2 separate regions of the Homo sapiens genome follow, and region 2 is linked to region 1. Evidence: fine-mapped expression QTL. A gene starts in region 1. The other region holds a variant in brackets. All regions are shown on one strand. Distances are between the middles of the regions.

Region 1 (9,805 bases):
TTTGTCACACCCTGCAGGGGCTGACCACACCAGTCCATCAGGTGCCCTCTCCACTTCCTAAGCAGCAGGGAGCCAGTCCTAGCACGGCCCCAGAGAGCAGACCCCCTGCCTGGCATGGGCCTGCTCAGGCCTTGCTCCAACACCGAGGCCCGGGCCAAGGGCACCTGCTTGGGGATAACCTGACTCTAACTCACTGCACTGGTGACATTTTCTGTCACATTCACAGCGACTACAGCTGGGGACTTAGTAATCCTTTCTCCTGCTAGACTGGGCTTCTGGAAGGGCCAAGATTAGTCATCCTGTTCATCTGGGTTCCTAGACTGTGGCCCTGGCTGGCATTGGGCAAGCTGCTTAGATGGCAGCTGCTGATCTGTAGTGACATCTGTGACCGACAGCGAAAGAACCACCCTTAGTCACACTCCCTTGCCCATGACTCAGCCAGGCCCATCCCAGCGTGGAAGCAAGCTTAGCCTGGGATGTGTGCCCGCAGGAGCCGCTGGTGCAGGGAAAGGTTTCTGCAGACACGGCATGCATTCCTGTCTGTCTCTCCACTACCACTGCCCACTGCCCTGGGCTTCCTTACATCCCAGCTGTGGGACAGTGGGGTCAGGCAGAACTCTGGAGCTCCCTTGTCCCCCTTCCCATCTCATTCTCAAAGTGCTGTCACCAACCCAGCATCAGGGGGCACAAGGCTCTCTCTCCACTGCCCAGCTTGGAGTGCAGTGGCATGATAATGGCTCACAGCAGCCTCAACCTCCAGGGCTCAAGCGATCCTCCCACCTCAGCCTTTAGAATAGCTGAGACCACAGGAGCACGCCACCACACTCAGCTAACTTTTGTATTTTTAGTAGAGATAGGGTTTTGCCATGTTGCCTAGGCTGGTCTCGAACTTCTGGGCTCAAGAGATCCTTCTGCCCTGACCTCCCAAAGTGCTGGGATTACAGGTATCAGGCGTTGCCCTACTCCTTTTTGAGACGGAGTTCACTCTTGTTGTCCAGACTGGAGTGCAATGGCACAATCTCGGCTCACTGCAACCTCCACCTCCCTGGTTCAGGCGATTCTCCAGCCTCAGCCTCCCAAGTAGCTGGGATTACAGGCATGCACCACCACACCCAGCTAATTTTGTATTTTTAGTAGAGACGGGGTTTCGCCATGTTGGCCAGGCTGGTCTTGAACTCCTGACCTCAGGTGATCTGCCTGCCCCAGCCTCCCAAAGTGCTGGGATTACAGGCGTGAGCCACCGCGCCCAGCCGCCCCACTCTTAAATGGACGGATTATCACAGCTTCCACCAGCCACTTCATCAAATATACAACTAAGAGAGGATCCTCATGCCTTGCTCCGTGGCAAGGTTAAAAACAACAACAAAAAAACAAACAGAAAAAGGAATTACACTACAAAGTCAAAACTGCTGAATCCACGTTTCTCTGAAAACCAGAGTACAAGAAGGAAAGGAACAGCCCAGAGATGTTCTGGCTGTGGGAAGCCTGTGGACGGCACACAGGGCAGCCATCCCACCCCAACCTCCCCTCACCTGGAGGCACAGGCACAAGGGTCAACAGGTGGCTCCCGGGCAAAGGTGTCCTCCCACCTGGTGAGTTAGAGAGGAAGGTGTTAGGTGTGAGGCAGGAAAGAAGATAAGAAAGAAGACAGGCAGCTTCGGCCCTCCAGGAGCGGGGACCCCCCGCCACCCCCACAACCCATGCCAACTTCAGGTGTCCAACACCAGATGGGGCTGCTCCCTCCATCCCCAACTCAGGTTCTCCCACCCCCTCCCAGCTGGACAGACACCAAAATCCTGGCCCAGGCCTGGACTCCAACAGTGGGACGAATCAAACAGTTCCAGTTCTACACACATTTCTATTTTATTATGGAAAAGGTGGAAACGCCACCTTCTCCACAACAGCAACCAGTAAAATTTATCCCAAAAATAACTCGGTACAAAACAGGTCTGTTTCAGAATTAAAAAAAAAAAAAAAGAAAAAAAAAAAACCTTTACATGAGTTTTTAAATCCTATTTTAAAACATAAAAGAAACAAATCCATCATTGGCCGCACAGCCCCAGCCACCGCCCCCCAACCAGGGAGCAAGAGGAGACGCCTGGGTCCTGTTCCGCACGCGGATTTGCTGGTCTGTTTAACTGGTGTCCATCTGAAACACAGAGGAGAAAGAGGCTTGCATTCACAGGCGGCCTGCTCCCCACTGCGGCTTTGACCAGGCCCCCAGCTGGCTCCCCCGGGACTCACTCTCGCATTATAGGCGTCCAGCTGGGCATCCAGCTCCTCTGCCGAAAGCTGCTGCTTTGAATTCCTGCCGGCACCTCTGCCTCTTCCACGGGCGCCTCCGCGGGTGCCTCTCCGGGTGCCTCCACCACCACCAAAACCTCCAGCGCCACGGTTTCTAGTCATGCCACCTCTGTTTACGCTAGCAAGGAAGACGAAACCGTTCACACACCCGGAAGGACCCTAAGAGCGACGCAGCCTCACCCTCGGCCAATCCCCTTCCCCAGAGGCCCCGGAAGTCACCTCTGTGCAGGCCTCCGCTGTGCGTCAATCTGTGACGTGACAAGCTGAATGTTCATGGGGCGGCCTGCGGCAAAGAATACGAGAAGGCACGTTCTATTGAGAGGCTCTGAAACCCACCCAGCTGGCGCCACACCCTGGTCTCCATGCAAACACTGGAAAGGGCCTCTGTGCGTCTCAAATGCCCCCGACAAGGGAAATGGCCTGGAGATACTGGTGGGAGAACAAAATGGCAAGGAAGCAACCCCACCAACACCTCCTCACTCCTTCTCAGTCCAGACTAGGTGGGCTGCTCGCTGAGGTATCGGGGTGCTCGTGGGTGGAGAGGTGTGGGTGACCTGACGAAGAAGAACCGGTACCTTTGTCTTTACGACTACAGCCCCGCACTCAGAGGTGTACTATGGCGGTTCTGAGAAGGCTTCACAGAAGTGAATCTTCCGGAAGGAGCTGAAGGAGGGGAGGGATGTAGCTTGCTGGATGGGGGTTCACAAGAGGTTGGTCCAGATGTGTGGGGCAGCATGAGAGGTGGCAGATGGAAGAGAGAGACAAAGGGGCAAATGCAAAGTGTCCTCAGCCACAGGGGTACCCCATATTCCTACCTGGACAGGTGCCAGCCCCAAACTCCACAAGCCCCACAGTCAGCGTGGGTCCACCCCCAGACTCACCATCCAGAGGGACGCCGTTGTACTGCTTCATGGCCTTCAGGGCATCTGCCTTCCGCTCAAAGTGCACGTCTGCTGTTCCTAAGCTGCGACCAGAGCGATCATAGTGCACAGCCGCCTTCTTCAGCGTTCCAAATTCAGCAAAGAGTTCCTGGGAGTTGCAGAGAGCAGTTGTCAGAAAAGCAACAAAACTGCGTTCCTTCTGGTGGCCCAGGGACAGGCCCTGGAAGCGTGAGTTGCTTTGGGGGTGGTTCTCTGGGAGGCAGGACAGTGGTTAACGGGAAATGAGGGAAGGGCGGGGCAGGAGGGACAGCAACTTCCAAGAGCACCTGGGTCTGAGGGCTCCTGCCATTGTGGGGACCTGACACGTGTACCACGATGCAGGTAGAGGAAGCTGCAAAGCCCACTAGCAACGGGCACAAAATTAAGCCACTATCCTCTTCAACAAAGGAAAATGTACAACACACCCAAGGGCTGTTCCAAGAAACGGTAAAGGCCAAAATCAAGAGCAAGGGAAGCAGTCCGATATCAGACCAGCTTGAAGGGCCTGTAGATTCGGGAGCCCTGACCCCAGCCCCTCCCCCAAAGGCAGATTCTGGCTCACCTTTCCCTCTCCTCCTACTCAAGCCTGCGGCAAAGTCTGAAGTCAAGCGCTGTCATGGAAACTGCCCTGACCTCAGGCAGGCTGGGAGTTGGAGAGGGAACCCAGAGTGTGGGGATACTCCGGCCGCAGGCACACAGCGGGAACTGGAGTTCACCAAAAGCGGTTTCCAGTGGATGCTAGAAACCACCTTAAAAAAAGTGTTGAGACACTGTGAGTGCTCACTGGCCCTACTCTGTCCTCCCAAGGCAAATGGCTGGGCTGTGGGCAACTGAACCCTGCCCAGCCATCTCCAAAACTGATTCCCAAAAAGTCATTTCTTAACCAGAAAACAAGTTGAAATGCCATTGGGATTCAATTTTTCTTTTTTTAAAAAAGAAAAGCTTCAACCAAAGATGGATTTGAGAGTCATGTCACTGACGGGACACGGCGGTGGGGAGTGATAAAACCACAGCGTACAAGGTCTTTATAAGACAGTACTCAAGGCAAACAGAGCCAGAAAAACAGACTCCCTGTGCTTCACAAGATACATAAAGAAGATTCTTTTTCTCACATTAACCCACTAAGACAGGCACAAAATTTAAAAAGCAACTGGGCTGGGTCTAACAGCCAAAAACCACTCACATTTGGTCAGTCTTTGTCCCTGTTAGAAACTGGAAGCCCTGGCAGGGGATTTTCACTCACAGAACCCATCTTCAGACTAACAGCAGCAGTTCCTCAGGCTCAGCTAGGCTCGCACCTGCCTGCGCACTGACCCCGGCTTTACTAGCACTGGGTCTGTCCTGCAGCCCTTCAGAGCTGGGAGGGCTCCCTTCGCTAAGGCGGGAAGGGGACTCAGGGCCACATCCCCAAAATCACGATCCGTCCTGTGCAGGGCGAACGGCTCACCGAGAAGCCCTCGTCTCTTACCTGAATATCGGCGTCTGAGACTCCAAAATCCAGATTGGACACCAGCAGTTTCCCACCTGTCTCCACGCCGGCACCACCGCCGAAGCCACTGTCGAAAAGATCGTGCTGCCACTTGTCGGGAAGTTGTTTTGGCTGAAAAAAAAACCGCAACAAGAGCAGATCTGTGAGTCTCAGTCCAGGGCTTTCCTGACCCTCACGGCTACTCCGGACCCTTCCTCTTCCCGGCCTGAGAGGATCCGGCCGAAACGGGGCCGCCAGCGCTCCCTCCGGCGCTGCAGCTGCCCCAGCCCGAGGCCGCACGGTCCCACCGCGGCCGCACAACTTCAGTTCCCTTAGACTAACTTCCCGCCGCCTGTGCCGCGCCCAGCGTCCCCTCCTCTCCTGCCACGAGGCCCCAACGTCCGGAACAAACAAAGAGCTGGGAAGGGTCTCAGCCTCCGGGACCGGACCCCGAAAGAACGACCTCGCTCCCGCCCACCACCCCCTCCGCGCCCACACGCACCCTCCGGACCTCCGGGCGGCCGCTCCACCAGCCTTATCCACCCGCCGGCCCGGGTCTCCGCCGCGAGCGGCCCCGGCCCCAGCCCCGGCTGGCCCCCTCCCACTCTCCGGCGCGGCCGGCCTCCGCACTCACCCTGCTGTAGGGCGCCGGTCGGTTCCTGCCGCCTCCGCCGGCCGCGCCGCGGGCGATGGCCGGCCGGTTCCGGATGGGCCCGCCGCCTCGATTCACTCGCGCGGCGGCCTGCGCCCCACCGCCGCGGCCGCCCTGGGAGCCGGCCCGGCCGCGGCCCCGGCCCCCGCCCCGGCCGCCTCGCTGGCTCCGGTTCAGTTTAATGATGTCGTCCAGAGACATGTCCATTTTGTCGGCCATGGCGGGCGCGGAATCGGGCATCGGCTCGAGCCCGCGCGTCAGCACGCCGGCACGTCACTTCCGGCGCCGCGTGAGGCCTTCCGGTGCCACGGCCTCGGAGCGGCTGCTGATTGGCCGCTGGCGGACGGCTGCGCGCGCGGGACGGGGTGAGGCGGGGAGGCGCGTGCGCACTGGCGTGCGAGACTCGGCGGGCGCTGTTGAGGGAGTCGGGCCGCGACTGTGGTCGTTTTTATACCTTCCCGCGCGGACGCCGGCGCTGCCAACGGAAGGGCGGGTAGGGCGGTGCGTGATTAGGTTGGCGAAGGTGCGAGGGCGCAGGGGGTGGGGCGGCGGCCGTTGGAGGCGGAGCCTACGCGCCCCTCCCTCCCCGCACGCTCCGCCCGATCGGCCAGGGCTGGGGGCGCTGGGGGCGCTACGGGCGCGGCGGGTGCCTGGGAGCTGCTGGGAGTCCTTGTTTCCGCTCCCGCCCAGGACTGTGCGCTCGGCTCGCGGTGGGGTCCGGCGGGCGCGGCTTCGGCGGGCGGCAGCCGCTGCAGACGAGCTGCGGGTTGGTTTTTTGGTCTCCACCTGCAGCCCCCCCAAGTCTGCACTGTCACATTTTGCCAGTCATATCCTTTACAAGTTTTCTTGCGGGCCGGGCGCGGGCCTCACGCCTGTAATCCCAGCACTTTGGGAGGCCGAGGCAAGAGGTTCGCTTCAGCCCAGGAGTTTGAGACCAGCCGGGGCAACATCGTGAGACCCCCATCTCTAAAAAAAAAAATGAGCTGGGCATGGTGGTGCACTTCTGTACTACCAGCTACTTGGGAGGCCGAGGTGGGAGGATTGCTTGAGCCCAGGAGGTCGAGGCTGCAGTGAGCCGTGGTGGCACCACTGCACTCCAGCCTGGGCGACAGAGCCAGACCCTGTCTCCAAAAAAAAATTATTTTTGCAACTTATTAATGAAAACCAGTGTGCCATTTCATTGATTTTTTTTTTTTTTTTTTGAGGCAGTCTCATTCTGTCGCCCAGGCTGGAGTGCAGTGGGGCGATCTCGGCTCACTGCAACCTCTGCCTCCTGGGTTCAAGCGAGTCTCCAGCGGCAGCCTCCCGAGTAGCTGGGACTACAGGCACGTGCCACCATACCTGGCTAATGTTTGTATTTTTAATAGAGACAGGGTTTCGCCATGTTGGCCAGGGTGGTCTTGAACTCCTGACCTCAGATGATCCGCCCGCCTTGGCCTCCCAAAGTGCTGGGATTACAGGCATGAGCCACCACACCCAGCCCATTTCATGGATTTTAAGTTGTTTTGAGATACTTGCTTTTGTTTTTGTTTTTTGAGTCAGGGTCTCCCTCCGTCACCCAGAGTGGAGTGCAGTGGTGTGATCTTGGCTCACTGCAGCCTCAAACTCCTGGGCTCGAGCTATCCTCCCACGTCAGCCTCTCAGGCAGCTGGTGCACGCCACCACAGCTGGCTTTTTTTTTTTTTTTTGAGACAGTCCCACTATGTTGCCCAGGCTGGAGTGCAGTGGTGCGATCTCGGCTCACTGCAATCTCTGCCTCCCAGGTCCAAGTGATTCCTGTGGCTCAGCTTCCCGAATAGAGCTGGGAGCTGGCGTGATCTCAGCTCGCTGCAACCTCCGCCTCCCAGGTTCAAGTGATTCTCTTGCCTCACCCTCCCGAGTAGCTGGGATTACAGTTGCCCACCACCACACCCGGCTAATTTTTTGTATTTTTAGTAGAGACAGGGTTTCAGTATGTTGGCCAGGCTGGTCTTGAACTCCTGACCTTGTGATCTGCCTGCCTCAGCCTCCCAAAGTGCTGGGATTACAGGCGTGAGCCACTACGCCTGGCCTCTAATTTTTGTTTTTTTGGTAGAGATGGGGTTTCACCATGTTGGCCAGGTTGGTCTCGAACTCCTGACCTCAAGTGATCCACCCTCCTCGGCCTCCCAAAGTGCTGGGATTACAAGCATGAGCCACCACCTGCGGCTAATTTTTTTGTATTTTTTGTAGAGACGGAGTTTCGTCATGTTGGCCAGGCCCATTTGAGATCTTTGAAGATATCCTCAACGTGAGGTAAAACCAAACTCCTGACTGTCCTGTGCTCCCAAATGTGATCTCCTTGTCCGTAAGGAGCTGAGTCCCTTCCCTTGGAGAGAAGAGTGTGCCCTTTCTCTAGATGGCTAAAGAAACCTCACAGATAGTTCTTTTTTTTCCTTTTTTTTTTTTTTTTTTTTTGGTAGAGACTCAGTCTCACTGTGTTACACAGGCTGGTCTCAAACTCCTGAGCTCAGGCGATCCTCCCGAGTTGGCCTCCCAGAGTGCTGGGATCACAGGTGTGAGCCACAAAGCGGATTGCTGCTGGGGCTTGCTGTTCTCCCGTAGCTCCCCTGCAGCCCTGACCCTCTGGGCCCAGAGCCCTTTACTTGTTATTTGTTTTAATAGAAACGGGGCTCATAGCAGGGCATAGGGGTTCACGCCTGTAATCCCAGCACTTTGGGAGGCCGCAGTGGCAGATCGCTTGAGGCCAGGAGTTCAAGACCAGCCTGGCCTACATGGTGAAACCTCGACTACTAAAAATACAAAAATTAGTCGGGCGTGGAGTCACGTGCCTATAGCCTCAGCTACTCAGGAGGCCGAAGCACAAGAAATGAGCTGAGATCATGCCACTGCACTACAGCCTGGGTGACAGAGTGAGACTCTGTCTCAAAAAAAAAAAATTAATAAAAATAAAAGTAAAATAAAATAGAAACAGGGCTCACGATGTTTCCCAGGCTGGGTTCGGACTCCTGGGCCGGTATGATCTTCCTGCCTTGGCCCCCTGAGTAGCTGGGACTGCACTGTGGCAGGCTTATACCTGTGTTGGTGCCTAAACGTTCTAGCTCTGCAGACTCAATTTAGCCAGTCGTCCTGTTCCCTCCGCCGCAGGCTCTGCTGCCATGAAGGTGAAGATTAAGTGCTGGAACGGCGTGGCCACTTGGCTCTGGGTGGCCAACGATGAGAACTGTGGCATCTGCAGGATGGCATTTAACGGATGCTGCCCTGACTGTGAGTGTCCCCTCCATGCTGTCTGAGCGGCCCCGACTGTGAGTGTCCCCTCTGTGCTGTCTGCTGCCTGCTGGACTAGCCTCAGTAGCTCCTGTTAAATACCTGCACGAAATACCCAGTTTCATTTTCTTTTTTTTTTTTTTTTTTTGAGACCGAGTTTCGATCTTGTTTCCCAGGCTGGAGTGCAATGGCGCGATCTCGGCTTGCCGCAACCTCTGCCTCCCGGGTTCAAACGGTTCTCCTGCCTCAGCCTTCCAAGCAGCTGGGATTACAGGCATGTGCCACCATGCTGGGCTAATTTTTTTATTTTTAGTAGAGACGGGGTTTTGCCTTGTTGGCTAGGCTGGCCTTGAACTCCTGACCTCAGGTGACCTGCCCGCTTCAGCCTTCCAAAGTGCTGGGATTACAGGTGTGAGCCACTTTGCCTGGCCCACATTTTTATTTTCTTTTCTTTCTTTCTTTTCTTTTTTTTTTTTTTTTTTTTTGAGATGGAGTTTCACTCTTGTTGCCCAGGCTGGAGTGCAATGGCGCGATCTCGGCTCACTGCAACCTCCGCCTCCTGGGCTCAAGCGATTCTCCTGCCTCAGCCTTCCAAGTACCTGGGATCACAGGCATGTGCCACTACACCCGGCTAATTTTGTATTTTTTAGTAGAGACAGGCTTTCTCCATGTTAGGCTGGTCTCGAACTGTCAACCTCAGGTGATCCACCCGCCTCAGCCTCCCAAAGGGATGGGATTACAGGCGCGAACCACCGTGCCCCCCCCAACATTTTCATTTTCATCTCATGAAGAAAAGTTGATAGAAAAAAAGCCAGGTGGTTGGTACCCATGTTTATATAAAGATCCTGTCACAGACTCCATAGGATGAAACTCAGCTGTGAAATACGTGGGATTAAAAAGAGATTAGAGTCTGGGCGGGCAGATCACAAGGTCAAGAGATGGAGGCCGGCATGGCGGCCCACGCCTGTTATTCCAGCACTGTGGGAGGCCGAGGCGGGCGGATCACAAGGTCAAGAGATGGAGGCCGGCACGGTGGCTCACACCTGTCATCCTAGCACTGTGGGAGGCCAAGGTAGGCAGATCACAGGGTCAAGAGATCAAGGCAGGGTGTGGTGGCCCACACTTGTCATCCCAGCACTGTGGGAGGCTGAAGTGGATGGATCTCAAGGTCAGGAGATTGAGACCATCCTGGCCAACATAGTGAAACGCCATCTC
Region 2 (9,805 bases), 75 kb before region 1:
CCGCCAATACCACGGCCAACATCTCCTGCCCCTGGTACCTGCCTTGGCACCACAAAGGTACCCATAGAGGGGAGGAACTGTGGGGGGGGCGGGCCCAGGGTGGGGCTGACCCCAGCCTCCCCCCACACCCCCAGTGCAACACCGCTTCGTGTTCAAGAGATGCGGGCCCGACGGTCAGTGGGTGCGTGGACCCCGGGGGCAGCCTTGGCGTGATGCCTCCCAGTGCCAGATGGATGGCGAGGAGATTGAGGTCCAGGTCAGTGGGCGGCAGGCAGGCGCGGTGGGGCTGGATGGGAACGGGCATGGGGGCCCCTGCCTGGCCCTCACAGGCCACTGTAACTCGCAGAAGGAGGTGGCCAAGATGTACAGCAGCTTCCAGGTGATGTACACAGTGGGCTACAGCCTGTCCCTGGGGGCCCTGCTCCTCGCCTTGGCCATCCTGGGGGGCCTCAGGTAGGATTCCGCCAGCGCCCGGGGCGGCCGCAGAGGACAGGGAGGAGGACGGGCGCTGACTGGCTGTGCCCACAGCAAGCTGCACTGCACCCGCAATGCCATCCACGCGAATCTGTTTGCGTCCTTCGTGCTGAAAGCCAGCTCCGTGCTGGTCATTGATGGGCTGCTCAGGACCCGCTACAGCCAGAAAATTGGCGACGACCTCAGTGTCAGCACCTGGCTCAGTGATGGAGTGAGCCCCCCTCGGCGGCCCCAGGCAGGTGGGTGGGTGGGCAGCCAGGCAGGTGGCCACGTAGCCGCGCTCACACTGCACCTGTACCAGGCGGTGGCTGGCTGCCGTGTGGCCGCGGTGTTCATGCAATATGGCATCGTGGCCAACTACTGCTGGCTGCTGGTGGAGGGCCTGTACCTGCACAACCTGCTGGGCCTGGCCACCCTCCCCGAGAGGAGCTTCTTCAGCCTCTACCTGGGCATCGGCTGGGGTGAGTGGGCTGGCATGAGAGGGGGTTAAGGCAGGCTGACCAAGCCTTTGGGACCACAGCTGCTGCCCCCCACAGGTGCCCCCATGCTGTTCGTCGTCCCCTGGGCAGTGGTCAAGTGTCTGTTCGAGAACGTCCAGTGAGTATGAGCGGCTGGACAGCCTGGGGAGGGACCGGGGGGCTGGGGTGCGGCGCTCTGGCCTGAGGCAGGGAGGGGCCGGGGATGAGCCTGGTGCCTGGGGAGGGGGTCATTTGTGACCTTCTCCCTTCCTTTTCTGAGACCCGAATTAGATCCTGGCAAAATCGGGACGGGGGTGCTGAGGGGCGGAGGGGCTGGGGGCTGTGCCCCAGTATGTGAGTGGCCTGGCCTCGCAGGTGCTGGACCAGCAATGACAACATGGGCTTCTGGTGGATCCTGCGGTTCCCCGTCTTCCTGGCCATCCTGGTGAGGAAATGAAGAGCCAGGAGCGCACCCCAGGCCCCTCCTCCCTTGGCGTCCTGAGGCTGCCCCAGGAGACAGCAGCATCCTGTCTGAGAGCGCTGGGAGGGAGCCGGCACCCAGACAGGACACCAGGACACTGGCCAGCACCCTGGACACTGAGCCAGGCTGTTCCTCCCTGGCTGTGTGCCCACCAGCCCCAGGGCTATGTGGCCCAGGGCCTATCTTGCTGCCAGGCCCACCTGCAGGAGGGTCAGGTGGGGCCTTCCAAGGGCACAGAGCTGTTCCCTGGGGCTCGGGATGCCCCTGACTCGCACCCTTCTCACACAGATCAACTTCTTCATCTTCGTCCGCATCGTTCAGCTGCTCGTGGCCAAGCTGCGGGCACGGCAGATGCACCACACAGACTACAAGTTCCGGTGGGTGCCGCGGCAGCTGGCGTCTCGAGACCTGGAGACCCTCAGGGCCAGAGGGCAGCTGGGGGTGGGGACTCCAAGCTCCACGTGGATGGTGCGGGCCGAGGGTGGGGGCGGTGGGTGACTCAGGCGCTGCCTCTGCAGGCTGGCCAAGTCCACGCTGACCCTCATCCCTCTGCTGGGCGTCCACGAAGTGGTCTTCGCCTTCGTGACGGACGAGCACGCCCAGGGCACCCTGCGCTCCGCCAAGCTCTTCTTCGACCTCTTCCTCAGCTCCTTCCAGGTGCCCGCCCGCCCGCCGGCTCCCCCGCCCGGGGCGCAGTGTGCCACCCCTGACCACCCTGTCTCTCCAGGGCCTGCTGGTGGCTGTCCTCTACTGCTTCCTCAACAAGGAGGTAGGTGGGAGTGGGGGCATCTGAGACCATCAGCACTGGCCGTCGGGGTCAGGGGCAGAGAGAGGCACAGGGATGCCAGCCCCACCCCTGCCCGGGGGTTGGAACACGTGGGGCCCAAGCCTTTCCCTCCCCCTGCTCTTATTGGGTGCAGTTGCCATGGCGCTGGGTGTCAGGCCCCCAGGACAGGTTGGCCTCAGCCCCATCGCTACGGTGTCCACCGTGGGGGTCCCCAGGTGTCTGCAGACTGCTTTCCGTGGCGATGCTGGGTGGCATAGCTGTGCCCAGCAGGGAGCTTGTGTCGCTCTGCACCCCTCAGAGCGGAGACTGGGCATCTCCGATGAGGCCCACAGCAGGTCCCGGTGGGGTGGAGAGGACAGGCAGGCCCTAGGACTGGCCTGCCCCGTCCCCCTCCCCAGGTGCAGTCGGAGCTGCGGCGGCGTTGGCACCGCTGGCGCCTGGGCAAAGTGCTATGGGAGGAGCGGAACACCAGCAACCACAGGGCCTCATCTTCGCCCGGCCACGGCCCTCCCAGCAAGGAGCTGCAGTTTGGGAGGGGTGGTGGCAGCCAGGATTCATCTGCGGAGACCCCCTTGGCTGGTGGCCTCCCTAGATTGGCTGAGAGCCCCTTCTGAACCCTGCTGGGACCCCAGCTAGGGCTGGACTCTGGCACCCAGAGGGCGTCGCTGGACAACCCAGAACTGGACGCCCAGCTGAGGCTGGGGGCGGGGGAGCCAACAGCAGCCCCCACCTACCCCCCACCCCCAGTGTGGCTGTCTGCGAGATTGGGCCTCCTCTCCCTGCACCTGCCTTGTCCCTGGTGCAGAGGTGAGCAGAGGAGTCCAGGGCGGGAGTGGGGGCTGTGCCGTGAACTGCGTGCCAGTGTCCCCACGTATGTCGGCACGTCCCATGTGCATGGAAATGTCCTCCAACAATAAAGAGCTCAAGTGGTCACCGTGCATGTCCTGGAAAGCAGGGCTGGAAATGCTGGGGCCGAAGCAGTGGGGGATGGAACAGCGGTGGGTGGTCAGCGCCAGTGCGGGCTGTTGAAGGGTCCCCCTGCTGTCCCAGTTCACTCAGAGTTGGCACTGGAACCCCGGAGGATCCCGAAGGCAGCCAGCCTGTGCCCATCTGAGCAGGTCCTGGCCACCTTCCCATCCTGGTTCTGGCGGGCAGTCCCCCTGGACGCTTTGGCCACCAGAGGGTCACCATTCACCAGCAGAGACGTGAGGGGCACAGTGGCTAAGGCGGCATGAGGCATCACAGTCCCCTGACCGACCCCATCAGCACTGGATTCACCCGAGGGCGTCTTCTCCCTGGAGGCCGTGAGGACACTGGCACCTGGCTCATCGGCCCGCCCTTCCTCTGAGCCTCCTGGCCTCCGTTTCATCTCAGCTCCAGCCCCCTCGGGCAATTTACAGGCCACGTAGCAGATTGAAGCGGGAAGAAATGGGCCTGAACATTGCCGCGGGTCCAGGCGACGGAGGAGGGCAGGTTGCCCAACTTCTGCACAGGACCCGGGGTGCGCCACACACACGCCAGTCCTCGTGCCACACAGAGAGGTCCGGCCTACGCCAGTCCTCGTGCCACACAGAGAGGTCCGGCCTACGCCAGTCCTCGTGCCACACAGAGAGGTCCGGCCTACGCCAGTCCTCGTGCCACACAGAGAGGTCCGGCCTACGCCAGTCCTCGTGCCACACAGAGAGGTCCGGCCTACGCCAGTCCTCGTGCCACACAGAGAGGTCCGGCCTACGCCAGTCCTCGTGCCACACAGAGAGGTCCAGCCTACGCCAGTCCTCTTGCCACCTCGTGGTGGGTGGGCGCCCTGCTTGCCAGCCAGGGAGCACCAGGAAAGAGCTGCCTCCTGCGTGCTGGACACAGGAGGTGCTTCAGGGTGGGGTCTCCCATTGTGTGGGGCCCAACCTGAGTCTAAGGGCCCAGGGACCACACAGCGGGGGTGGAGACAAATTCAGGGTAGAAGCTGTGAGGGGCCTGTGGTCAGCCCCCCGGGGGGTCCCTGCAGCAGGCACTGTGAGACCTACTGAGGTGTGTGCATGGGCTGGGGAAGGAGCCAGTCAGGTGCCCCTGCTCTGAGGAGCTGCTGGGAAGTGCTGCTGGGCCCTGGGGGAAGGGGTGCTCACAGCCCCTGCCTGGGCCACGTGGGCTGGAGCCGCTCAGGCAGAGCCGGACTAATTGGGGCAAATGAGGGGACAGGAGGCCTCTGAGGAAAGGTAAATAGAATTACTCACCCGCCAGGCACTGGGGCCCTCCTGGGGGGGCCCTCACCCTGCCACCCACCACAGGGCCTGCATGCAGCAGGGAGGGAAGTGAGCTGATTAGGCAAGGCTGGACCCTTCTGGGGCCCTGGGGTTGCTGTGATTGGGACGGCAAGGCCAGGAGACGGTCCCCTGAGCTGCACCTGCTGGAGGCCTGTGATCTCAGACCTTAAGGCTTCAGGCCAGCTCTACGCCCCTCCGGCCTCAGGTCCTGGCTCTCCTCTGAGCCCTGGATGCCCGGGTGCCTGTGTGGGCACGAGGCTGCTCCGAGTCAGCACACGGAGGTGGACATTCTCCTTCATGCCAGCTGAGCTCAGGGCTGGTGACTGCCCTGGGGAAACTGCCCCTCACCTGGGACCTCCTGACAGCCCTCCCCATTCCCGAGTCCCTCTGCCCTTGTCCTCTTTCACCTCTGTCCCGCCCTCATCCCTAAGGGAACTGGAGCAGGCTGGTGGAGTTGGGTGGAGTTGGGGACTGGCAGGGGGTGGACTCACCCAGGCAATAAACACTGGCCCTAACCAGGCAGTCCTGCAGGCAGGTAGGTGGAGGGACTGTTTTTTTTCTTTTTTGGAGATAGAGTCTCACTCTGTTGCCCAAGTTGGAGTGCAGTGGCATGATCTTGGCTCACTGCAAACTCCACCTCCCAGGTTCATGTGATTCTCTGCCTCAGCCTCCTGAGTAGCTGGGATTATAGGCGTGTGCCACGACACCTGGCTAATTTTTTTTTTTTTTTTTTTGAGACGGAGTTTCACTCTCGTTGCCCAGGCTGGAGCTCAATGGCGCGATCTCAGCTCACCGCAACCTCCGCCTCCCAGGTTCAAGCGATTCTCCTGCCTTAGCCTCCCTAGTAGCTGGGATTACAGGCAGGTATGTGATGCCCGGCATCCCAAAGGGGTATCTGCAAGAGTTGGGTGCTGTGTGTGCATGGCTGGGAGGAAGATGACTTTGATACCCTGGAATCTGGTGTCTGTGGACACAAAAATACTACTAAAATGAGAGTGGAGACCAGGAAAAAGGAAGACATGAACTACATGAAGGACCAAATCTAGGAGAGTCAGAAGTGCGTCACAGGAATAGGGGACCTTGAGCCAGACAGAAGGCTCAGCAGAGACACCCTCAAGGGGATGAAAGGGATTGAGTGCACTAATATTTAGAGGAGAGAGTTCAGGACTTGATTAGTGACTAGTACATAGAAAACTAAACAAATGAGGCTGGGTGCAGTGGCTCATGCCTGTAATCCCAGCACTTTGGGGGGCCAAGGCGGGCGAATCACCTGAGGTCAGGAGTTCGAGACCAGCCTGGCCAACATGGTGAAACCTCGTCTCTACTAAAAATACAAAAATTAGCCGGGCGTGGTGGCGGGCGCCTGTAGTCCCAGCTACTTGGGAGCCTGAGGCAGGAGAATCGCTTGAACCTGGGAGGCGGAGGCTGCTGTGAGCCAAGATGGTGCCATTGCACTCCACCCTGGGTGACAGAGCAAGACTCCGTCTCAAAAAAAAAAAAAAAGAAAGAAAAAACCAAGCAAATGAAAAAAGAAGGCAATTAATAATTCCAAAGAAAAGAAAAATTTGGGCAGAAAAGAACAAAACAAGCAGAATTTACCATGACTCAGTTCTGAATACAAACACAGACATCATAATGTAAACACCAACACTGATGCAACCAGAATCATGGGAGAAAAAAGATCTAGGGAGGGTGGTGGACGGGAATATCACGTATGTACTGGGGGTAGGGGAGAGAACAAAATGGGAAAAATCAAGAATAATTCACGTTAGAAATAAAAATACAGAGCAAAATTTAAAAATGCAAAGAATGAGGTGAAGAGTTCAAAGTGGTCACCTCGGGGCCGGGCGCGGTGGCTCACGCCTGTGATCCCAGCACT[T/C]TGGGAGGCTGAGGCGGGCGGATCACAAGGCCAGGAGTTTGAGACCATCCTGGCTAACAAGGAGAAACCCCATCTCTACTAAAAATTAGCCAGGCGTGGTGGTGGGCGCCTGTAGTCCCAGCTACTCGGGAGGCTGAGGCAGGAGAATGGCGTGAACCCAGGAGGCGCAGCTTGCAGTGAGCCGAGATCGCGCCACTGCACTCCAGCTTGGGCAACAGAGTGAGACTCCGCCTCAAACAAAACAAAACAAAACAAAAAAACAAAGTGGTCATCTCTAGGCAAGGTGGGTGGGAGATGGCTAGGGCTGCAGGTCCACTACGTGAGCTGGCTCAGCCTATCCCCAGACACCCTGCACTCACTCAGCCCGGGGTCCTCCCCCTGCACTCACTCAGCCCCGGGTCCTCCCCTGCACTCACTCAGCCCCGGGTCCTCCCCCTGCACTCACTCAGCCCCGGGTCCTCCCCTGCCTGCTCTTTCTCTGACCCTGCCCTCCACTGTTCCTTTTTCTTCTTTCTCTCCCTGTTGTGTCCAGGAACCAGGCACCACCCTCATTTCTTCTTGATCAATCTTTAAAAACCAGCAGTGCTCAGCTAACTCTTCATCTATCTCCCCCGACCTGGGGCTCTGCTGAATCCACGCTTTAGACCCAGCTATCAGCTCGGCATGTACAGCTGGATGTCCACACCGAGCTGCTCACCCTGTCCCCAGCTTCTTCCTCCCACTGTCCACTGCAGAAGCCTCCTAACAGGACCCCTGCTGCTACCCCGGACCCTGCAACCCATTCCCACACAGCAGCCAGATGCTTTGACACCCGAAGTCTCCTATGAATCCGATGAGGCCTCTGCACCACACCTCATTTTACAGAAGTACAGGGGAAACAGGGGTCTGTTGACACCACAGAGATGCAGCTGGCCAAAGGCAGAATGTGGGGTACACGACTGTCAAACGCCAGGGGTCCTTACACGAATGGTGGAAAAAGAGGGGCATGTTACGGATGGAGGCTCGGGACACATGGGCGCCGCCTTCCCATGCTGCCAGCAACCCACCAGGAACCTATTAATTTAGTCATTTGGGAAATGGGAGCTGGGTATATCGGCTATTAGGAAATTGTTCATGCTCAATAAGTATTAATTACAATTTTCATAAGAGCTTAACCCCCCTGAAAGAGGTCACTGTTTCCTCACTTGTAAATTGGGATACTAAAACCTGCCCCATGGAGTTGCCAGAGTGACATGTGTGCGTGCACACCAACAGTACACAGCAGATAGTGACATATGTGTGCACGCCAACACTACACAGCAGATAGTGACTTGTGCGTGCGCGCCAACACTACACAGCAGATAGTGACACGTGCGTGCACACCAACAGTACCCAGCAGATAGTGACATATGCGTGCACGCCAACACTACACAGCAGATAGTGACTTGTGCGTGCACGCCAACACTACACAGCAGATAGTGACATGTGCGTGCACGCCAACACTACACAGCAGATAGTGACTTGTGTGTGCACGCCACTACACAGCATAGTGACTTGTGTGTGCACGCCAACACTACACGGCAGATAGTGACTTGTGTGTGCACGCCAACACTACACGGCAGATAGTGACTTGTGTGTGCACGCCAACACTACACGGCAGATAGTGACTTGTGTGTGCACGCCAACACTACACGGCAGATAGTGACTTGTGTGTGCACGCCAACACTACACGGCAGATAGTGACTTGTGTGTGCACGCCAACACTACACGGCAGATAGTGACTTGTGTGTGCACGCCAACACTACACGGCAGATAGTGACTTGTGTGTGCACGCCAACACTACACGGCAGATAGTGACTTGTGTGTGCACGCCAACACTACACGGCAGATAGTGACTTGTGTGTGCACGCCAACACTACACGGCAGATAGTGACTTGTGTGTGCACGCCAACAGTACACAGCAGATAGTGACATATGTGTGCACGCCAACACTACACAGCAGATAGTGATGTGTGTGCACACCAACACTACACAGCAGATAGTGACATGCGCGTGCACGCCAACACTACACAGCAGGTAGTGACATGTGTGTGCACACCAACAGTACACAGCAGATAGTGACATGCGCGTGCACACCAACACTACACAGCAGATAGTGATGTGTGTGCACACCAACAGTACACAGCAGATTGTGATGTGTGTATGCACACCAACGGTACAACACGCAACAGTTGCAGTTGCCTCATTTCCCCAAGTCGCCCTCACTGCAGAAAGGGGAGTGTCTCCAGCTGCTTAGTCCAGCAGCCTCCAGGATTGGGTGAGGGTCGGAGGGCCCTGGTGCCCTGCATGGACAAGGCAGTGGCAGCAGGGCTGAAGGACAGGCTGGGGTGGGAGGACCGCAACCCTCTGGGATCGGGCCCCACGGTCAGCTCCCGCAGCCCAGGGGAGAGGTGCCCACTCTAGCAGCCCTTTATGTGCTCCTCAAGCTGAAAGTAGAGACCCCGCTTTGTGACTACAGTGAGTTCTCACACCATTAGGCGAACGGCTGGGGTAAGACCACCCTGTGGCCCCTGCAGAGCTGACCTCACTGGGTGGTCCACCGAAGAGGGGATGGGAGGGCAAGTTTGCTTCAGGGTCAGAGGTCCGGTCCCGGTGGGTGCACCTCCCCAGCCCTCAGGTAGGTTAGGCCCCCTCTCCCGCGTCCCCTCCCCCTCCTCACCCCAATCCCCTCCCCCTCCTCACCCCAATCCCCATCCCCCACGCGGTGCATCGGGTGAAGGGGTGGGGCCTCCAGCAACACCGTGGGCTCAGCGCTCCCCACAGACTCCTACCCTCCTGCCCAGCATGTGCCTGGCCAGGCCGGCCCCCTCCTCTGAAGGGTTCTTGGCAGAAAGATCTCCAAATTGAAGGTTTCTGGTGGCAGGCCCAGGTGCTGGGGCCATACCTGGGGGAGCTCCACCCCCCGGCTGTAGGTAGGCAAGGCCCGGATTCCAGGGCCCAGTGTAAGATGACCCAGGTGAGCCCAAATCAGGTCCATCTCTTAACACAAGGAGCTCCCTCGGCACCTCCTGTGTGCTACACAGGGGTCCCAGCACCCATGCAGGGGAGAGGCCTTTGGATCACCACAGCCCACACTCTGTACAGAGGGATAAACTACTGCTTTGCCTGTAGAGTAGCCATTCTTTTATTTATTTTTTTCTTTTTCTTTTTTTTTTTTTTTTTTTTGAGACGGAGTCTTGCTCTGTTGCCCAGGACGGAGTGCAGTGGCGCAATCTCAGCTCACTGCAACCTCCGCCTCCCGGGTTCAAGTGATTCTCCTGCCTCAGCTTCCCGAGTAGCTGGGATTATAGGTGCCTGCCACCACACCCAGCTAATTTTTATGTTTTTAGTAGAGACGGGGTTTCACCGTGTTAGCCAGGATAGTCTCAATCTCCTGACCTTGTGATCCACCCGCCTCAGCCTCCCAAAGCGATGGAATCACAGGCGTGA

The links. PIP is the estimated chance that this variant, and not a neighbour inherited with it, causes the effect.
Region 2: its variant is fine-mapped to the expression of ALYREF in lung (TOPMed, PIP 0.91).

Annotation. Positions count from the first base shown.
Region 1 is chr17:81,885,997-81,895,801 of GRCh38, forward strand. ALYREF (Aly/REF export factor) reads right to left here and starts at 5,590. Exons shown (of 6, transcript NM_005782.4): 1 at 5,327-5,590; 2 at 4,693-4,824; 3 at 3,186-3,333; 4 at 2,524-2,587; 5 at 2,245-2,422; 6 at 1,839-2,149. The coding sequence starts at 5,584. The coding sequence ends at 2,135. It overlaps ANAPC11 (anaphase promoting complex subunit 11), which reads left to right and starts at 5,727. Exons shown (of 4, transcript NM_001002248.3): 1 at 5,727-5,845; 2 at 7,556-7,618; 3 at 8,471-8,590. The coding sequence starts at 8,482. RefSeq lists an enhancer at 2,409-3,608 and silencers at 3,412-3,576, 5,607-6,146, 7,027-7,242.
Region 2 is chr17:81,810,876-81,820,680 of GRCh38, forward strand. It overlaps GCGR (glucagon receptor), which reads left to right. Exons shown (of 14, transcript NM_000160.5): 4 at 1-57; 5 at 135-256; 6 at 347-453; 7 at 529-685; 8 at 776-935; 9 at 1,011-1,071; 10 at 1,308-1,377; 11 at 1,702-1,790; 12 at 1,932-2,070; 13 at 2,141-2,182; 14 at 2,599-3,133. The coding sequence ends at 2,814. Among named protein-coding and RNA genes, the nearest start is that of GCGR, 12 kb to the left of the region's middle. The variant T/C (reference allele first, on the strand shown) is at 6,338.